2 linked regions of the Homo sapiens genome follow. The protein of the gene in region 1 purifies or fractionates together with the protein of each later gene. This does not show direct contact. Each region holds a gene or a part of one and is shown on either strand. Other genes may lie near its edges.

Region 1 (4,100 bases):
ATTCACAGTTCTGCATGGCTGAGGAGGCCTCAGAAAACTTACAATCATGGTGGAAGGCATCTCTTCACAGGGTGGCAGGAGAGAGAATGAGAGCTGAGCAAAGGGGAAAAAGCCCCTTATTAAACCATCATCCCCCATGATTCAATTACCTCCCACTGCATCCCTCCCACAACATGTGGGGATTATGGGAACTACAATTCAAGATGAGATTTGGGTGGGGACACAGCCAAATGATATCAGTTACTTTGTTGATTTTCTGTTTAGATAATTTGTCTAATGCTATGAGTGGGGTGTTGAAGCCCCTCACTATTATTGTATTGCAGTCTACCTCTGTCTTTAGACATAGAAATTTTTTTTAATGAATCTGGTTGCTCCAGTGCTGGGTGTGTATATATTTACAATTGTTATATCCTCTTACTGAATTGATCCCTTTATCATTATAAAATAAACTTGTTTGTTGTTGTTTTCTACTGTTTTTAACTTAAAGTCTGTTTTACCTAATGTAACTATAGCTACTTCTGCTTGCTTTTGGTTTCTGTTGGCATGGAATATCTTTTTCCACTTCTTTACTTTCAGTCTAAATGCTTTTACAGGTAAGGTGAGTTTCCTATTAGCAGCATATAGTTGAATCATGTTTTTTTTTTTTTTTTAAAGAAATCCATTCAGCCAGTCTATAGCTTTTATGTTGAGCATTTAATCCATATATGTTTAAAGTTATTATTGATATGTGGAGTTTTGTTCCTTTTGTCTTATTGTTAATTGCTTTCTGGTTATTTTATACATTGTTTCTTTTTCTCTTACTGTTTGTCATTGTGGACTGGTGGAATTCTGTAGTGGGCCCATTTGATTCATTTCTGTTCCTCCTTTGTGTGGTCGCTTTAACAGTGAGTTTTATACTTTCCTGTGTTTTCATGATGCTAACTTCCATTTTTTTGCTTCCAAGTTTAGGATTTCCTTGAACACTTCTTGTAGGGCCAGCCTAGTACAGACGAATGCCCTTGGCATTTGCTTGTTTGGGAAATACTTTATTTCTCTTTCATTTATGAAGGTTAATTTTGCTGGATATAGAATTCCTGGCTGATAGTTGTTTTCTTCCAGCTCTTTGAATTATCATCCCACTCTCTCCTGGCCTGTCAGGTTTCTGCTGAGAAGTACGGTTATTAGTCTGATCGGGTTTCCCTCACAGTTGATGAGATGTTCTCATCTTGCTGTTTTTAGAATTCACTCTTTGACTTTAGACAGTTTGATTTTAATGTGCTGTGGTGAAAACTTTTTTTTTTTTTTTGCATTGTATTTGGGGAATCACTGCACCGCCTATATCTGGATGTTTAAATCTCTTGCTAGACTTGTGATGTCTTCATCTATTATTGCATTAAATAGGTTTTCTAAGCCTTCTGATCTTTTTGTCCTTGCGGATACCAATAATTCAAATATTCAGCTGCTTTATGTTGTCCCAAATGTCTTAAAGGCTTTGTTTATTCTTTTTTATTTTTGTCTTACTGGATTGTTTCAGACCTGTATTCAAGTTCTAAAATTTTTTTGTTCCACTTAGTCTAGTCTATTGTTAAATCTTTTGAATGTATTTTATATTTCCTTCAATAAATTCTTCAATTCCAGAATTTATGTTAGGGTTTTTTTAAAAATAAAAATCTATCACCTTGTAAAATTTTTCATTTATATCCTGAATTGTTTCACTGAGTTCTTTGTATTGGTTTTCAGATTTCTCTTGCACCTCACTGACCATATTTAAAAATCAGTATTTTGAGTTCCTTATCTGAGACTTTAAGAATTTCATTCTGGTTATGATCTATTAGTGGAGAACTGTTGTGTTCATTCTGGGGTGTCATACTTCCTTGTTTTTCATGTTTCCTGTGAGACTCTGAATTTCTATCAAGTTTCCAGTTGATGCCAATAATGCTGATTCCACACAGCCTTTCTCAACCAGCATTCATTATCTGAACCATGGAACACAGAGAATGTTTTGAGAAGCTCTTTTCTCAATTCTCCCAAGGATGGTACCTAACCAGAACCATTCTAGATACAAATCAGGACACTGATTCCTTACATGCAATTAGTGCCTTTGGTTTAGGGCTTAATTTTTTTGAGGAAACTTGGTTGAGAAAGCTGTCTTTGTAAAGCTGCTAAAGAGAAAGGCTCAGACTCTGAAAAAGCTAGCTTTATAGAGAAAACTACACCATTACCACCTTTAATTCTAACCGGTCTTTTGTATCAATAATATCATATCGATGATAATGAAATAATTGGACTAATAGTGTTTTGGTCTACGAAATATCATCTATTAATTCAGTAATTATTTGTGGAGTACCTGCTATTGCTTAGCACTGTGATGCTGAAAACATTTGAAGAATAAATGATGAAATAATTATTCATAACTTTTAAGCACCTTCTTCCTGTTGTTCATCATTAAACTTAAGTGAAATATCTGTACATGACTCAGATACTTTAGAAAAATATTCTCAGCAAAAAATCCCAGCACAATTTTAATTTAATAAGTTTTAATAAGATTTAATAAGTTTTTATTAAATCTTTTTAATAAATAATCTTTTTAATAAAATAAGATTTATTAAATTTTAATTTAATAAGATTTAATAAGTTATTTGTGATGCCTCCTCACATAATTCTCACAATTCTGGGGATAGCCTAATAATTGCTAGCTGTAGACAGAGAGAAGAAATAGCCAAATCCAACAGCTTCAAAGGACCATACCTCGAATGCATGATTGTTATAGAAGCGGTCTTCTACCTTACTCCCCCATTCTGCTGGATCAAAGTTGGTTTCTAAATAATAAAAATATAAGAACTTCAGATTTATTTGAATTCATTAAGGTAAATGTAGAATAGTGACACAAATGTAAGTTTCTTGTTTCAAATTACAGGTTCTTTACTGGCAGTCCAAAATCTTATTGACATTGTGCATAGCGTAGCACTGCAGACATTACCAGTGATTATTAAACATATGATAACCAACTGAACATTGGATGAGCCTTTGGGGATATTTAGAAAAGCACTAAAAACGTAATTTCTGCCTTCATAAAATTTATAATAAAATGGGAAAAAGAACAAATGCCAGTACTTAAATATAAATGTAGACACTTAGAACATGTATTAGTAAACACAGAAAAATGTATAAACCTAAATGCTAAGTTGTCAGAAAGTCTGGAAAAGTGAAAGATGGGAGAAATTTTTTTTAATGAAGTATATTATGTAGACAGTTGACACAGACAAGCAGAGGTATTTATTTTTAAACAATTTTTTTCTTTAACTTTATATTATAAAAATTTCAATACTTAAAAAGTAGATATGATAACAAACTCCCATGAGCATACTGTCTAGATTCAATGATCAACCCATGATTTATTTTATTTATAACCTTTTCTTCTGATTATTTTTCTGCACTTTTTTCTGATTATTTTTAACCCAACCCCTTGCATCCTGTTATTTTATCTACAATTATTTATTTCAGAATGTATCTCAATATATACTCTTTTAAAATATAACCACACCACCATTATCATACTTCAAAATACTAAAAATATTAATAATTCCTCAATATCCTCAACTATTCAGTCAACTATCCAAATTTCTTCCATTGTCTATTTATTTGTTGGTTCAAATCAGGACCCCGAAAACGGGCACACACAGCTCTTTGTATGTCTTTTAAATTTCTTTTAAAGGAAGAGCCCCCAGCCCCTATTCTTTCCTTGCAATTTATCTGTTGATGAAATTACGTCATTTTCCCTTTGGAGTTTTTCACAGTTCAGATGTTTCTGACTATCCCCATGGTGGCTTTTAACAAGTTCTTCAGCCTTTGAATTTCCTGTAAACTGGTAGCTAGCTGTATAGGTTTGATCTAATTCGGGTTTGACGGTTTGATTTTTTTTCTGCAAGTATACTTGATTGGTAGTGCTGTGTAATTCTGTCATAAAATTTATAATATCTGGTTACTCTTTTTATAATTTTTATCGGCCCCCTGATGATCCTTGCTTAGATCATTTCCTTAGGGGTTGTGAAATGGTAATGCTCTAATTTGATCAATACTTCTTTATTTTCTGGAGTACTCATTAAGGAAAACTTTTCCTC
Region 2 (2,788 bases), on another chromosome or scaffold:
TCTCCTGCCTCAGCCTCCTGAGTAGCTGGGAATACAGGCACACACCACCACGCCCGGCTAATTTTTGCTTTTTTTTTTTTTTTTAGTAGAGATGGGAGTTTCACCATGTTGGTCAGGCTGGTCTCGAACTCCTGACCTCACGATCTACCCACCTCAGCCTCCCAAAGTGCTGGGATTACAGGCGTGAGCCACTACACCTGGCCTATGGTTAATTCTTAATGTCTTCTCCTGAGCTTCTTCGTTTTTAGTTCTTAGTTCCCCCAAAACAGAACCAGGAAAGAAGGTAAGAGAGGCTCGTTCACAACCATCACAGTTTAACAGAAATGTTTTGTTTTTTTTTTTTTTTTTGAGACGGAGTCTCGCTCTGTTGCCAAGGGCTGGAGTGCAGTGGCATCATCTCGGCTCACTGCAAGCTCCGCCTCCCAGGTTCATGCCATTCTCCTGCCTCAGCCTCCCGAGTAGCTGGGACTACAGGCACCCACCACCACGCCCAGCTAATTTTTTGTATTTTTAGTAGAGATGGGGTTTCACCGTGTTAGCCAGGATGGTCTTGATCTCCTGACCTCGTGATCCACCCCCCTCGGCCTCCCAAAGTGCTGGGATGACAGGCATGAGCCACCACGCCCGGCCCAGAAATTATTTTTTAACTCTCCATTTGGGGATTACAAGTCAAAATGTACCACTAATGCTATAAAATAGCAATTCCTTTGTAATTTGAAAGAAATTATACAATTAATTTGCTTCAGATTATCAAAGTAACATTAAGAACAATAAAAGCATTATAAAAGAAACCGTTTAAATACATTCTTTTTAAAATTTAAGGCAAAAGTGAACCGCATGGTCATCATCAAAAGTTGTAAAAGCAACTTAAACAAATTTACAATTAAAAAAACCCAATTAGAAAGTGGACAAAGAACATGAACACTTCTCAAAAGAAGACATTTATGTGGCCAAAAAAACATGAAAAAAAGATCAACATCACTGATCATTAGAGAAACACAAATCAAAACCACAATGAGATACCATGTCACATCAGTCAGAATGCCAGTTATTAAAAAGTCAAGAAACAGGCTGGGCCCAGTGGCTTATGCCTGTAATCCCACCACTTTGGGAGGCCGAGGCAGGTGGCTCACTTGAGATCAGGAGTTTGAGACCAACCTGGCTAACATGGTGAAACCCCATCTCTACTAAAAATAGAAAAATTAGCCAGGCATGACAGCGGCACCTGTAATCCCAGCTACTCAGGACGCTGAGGCAGGACAATCGTCTGAACCCAGGAGGAGGTTGCAATGAGCTGAGATCACGCCACTCCACTCCAGCCTGAGTGACAAAGTGAGCCTCTTTTTCAAAAAAAAGAGAGAGTCAAGAAACAAGAGATGCTGGCGAGGCTGTGGAGAAATGGGAACACTTTTACACTGTTGGTGGGAATGTAAATTAGTTCAACCATTGTGGAAGACAGTGTGGCAATTCCTCAAAGACCTAGAACCAGAAATACCATTTGACCCAGCAATCCCATTACTGGGTATATATCCAAAAGAACACAATTCATTCTATTATAAAGATACATGCACACATATGTTCATGGCAGCACTATTCACAATAGCAAAGATAAGGAATCAACCCAAATGCCCATCTATGATAGACTGGATAAAGAAAATGTGGTAAATATACACTATGGAATACTACGCAGCCATAAAAAGGAAAGAGATCATGTCCTATGCAGGGACATGGATGGAGCTGGAAGCCATTATCCTCAGCAAACTAATGCAAGAACAGAAAACCAAACACTGCATGTTCTCACTTATAAGTGGGGGCTGAACAACAAGAACACAAGGACACAGGGAGGAGAACACACACTAGGGCCTGTTGGTGGGGGTTGAGGGATGAGGGGTGGGAGAACAACAGGAAAAACAGCTAATGCATGCTGGGCTTGATACCTAGGTAATGGGTTGATAGGTGGAGCAAATCGCCATGGCACATGTTTACCTATGTAACAAACCTGCACATCCTGCACATGTATGCTGGAACTTACAAAATAAAAATAAATTTTTTTAAAGGTGTAGAAAAGCCAGATATGGTGGTGTGCACCTATAGTCCCAGCTACTCAGGAGGCTGAAGCAAGAGGATCGCTGGAGCCCAGGAGTTTGAGGCCAGCCTGGACAATACAGAGAGAACTCAGTAATTCAGCACTTTGGGAGGCCAAGGTTGGTGCACTGCTTGAGCCCAGGAGTTCCTGGGCAACACTGTGAGACCATGTCTCTACAAATAATTGTAAAAAATAATTTTTAAATTAGCCAAGTGTGGTAGTACATGCCTGTAGTCCCAACTACTCAGGAGATGGAGGTAGGAGGATCGCATGGGCTGAGAGTTCAGGGCTGCAGTGAGCCATAATCATGCTGCTGTACTTAAACCTGGGCAACAGGGTTAAGACCTTGTCTCTATTAATTTAAAATTTTAAAAAGTAAATACATAAATACAAAAAGCTTTAACTAGGCATATTGTTGCAGCCTTTTTCACATATCAGAATCTTTTTTTTTTTTTTTTTTTTAAAGACAAAGTCTTGCTCTGTCACCCAGGCTGGAGTACAGTGGCATGATCTCAGTTCACTGCAGCCTCCGCCTCGTGGATTCAAGCAATTCTCCTGCCTCAGCCTCCTGAGTAGCTGGGATTACAGGTGACTGCCACCACACCCAGCTAATTTTTGTATTTTTAGTAGAGACAGGGTTTCACTATGTTTCAGGCTGGTCTTGAACTCCTGACGTCAGGTGATCCACCCACGTCAGCCTCC

Evidence for each region.
Region 2: the proteins of SPA17 (region 1) and USP33 purify together in Homo sapiens (affinity purification with mass spectrometry; 2 studies listed by BioGRID and IntAct, with this or other methods). This does not show direct contact.

The regions. Positions count from the first base shown.
Region 1 is NC_000011.10:124,680,087-124,684,186, reverse strand, and holds part of SPA17 (sperm surface protein Sp17), read right to left. Parts: intron 2,799-4,100; coding exon 2,728-2,798; intron 1-2,727. UniProt on the Homo sapiens protein: Sperm surface zona pellucida binding protein. Helps to bind spermatozoa to the zona pellucida with high affinity. Might function in binding zona pellucida and carbohydrates.
Region 2 is NC_000001.11:77,698,170-77,700,957, forward strand, and holds part of USP33 (ubiquitin carboxyl-terminal hydrolase 33), read right to left. Parts: intron 1-2,788. UniProt on the Homo sapiens protein: Deubiquitinating enzyme involved in various processes such as centrosome duplication, cellular migration and beta-2 adrenergic receptor/ADRB2 recycling.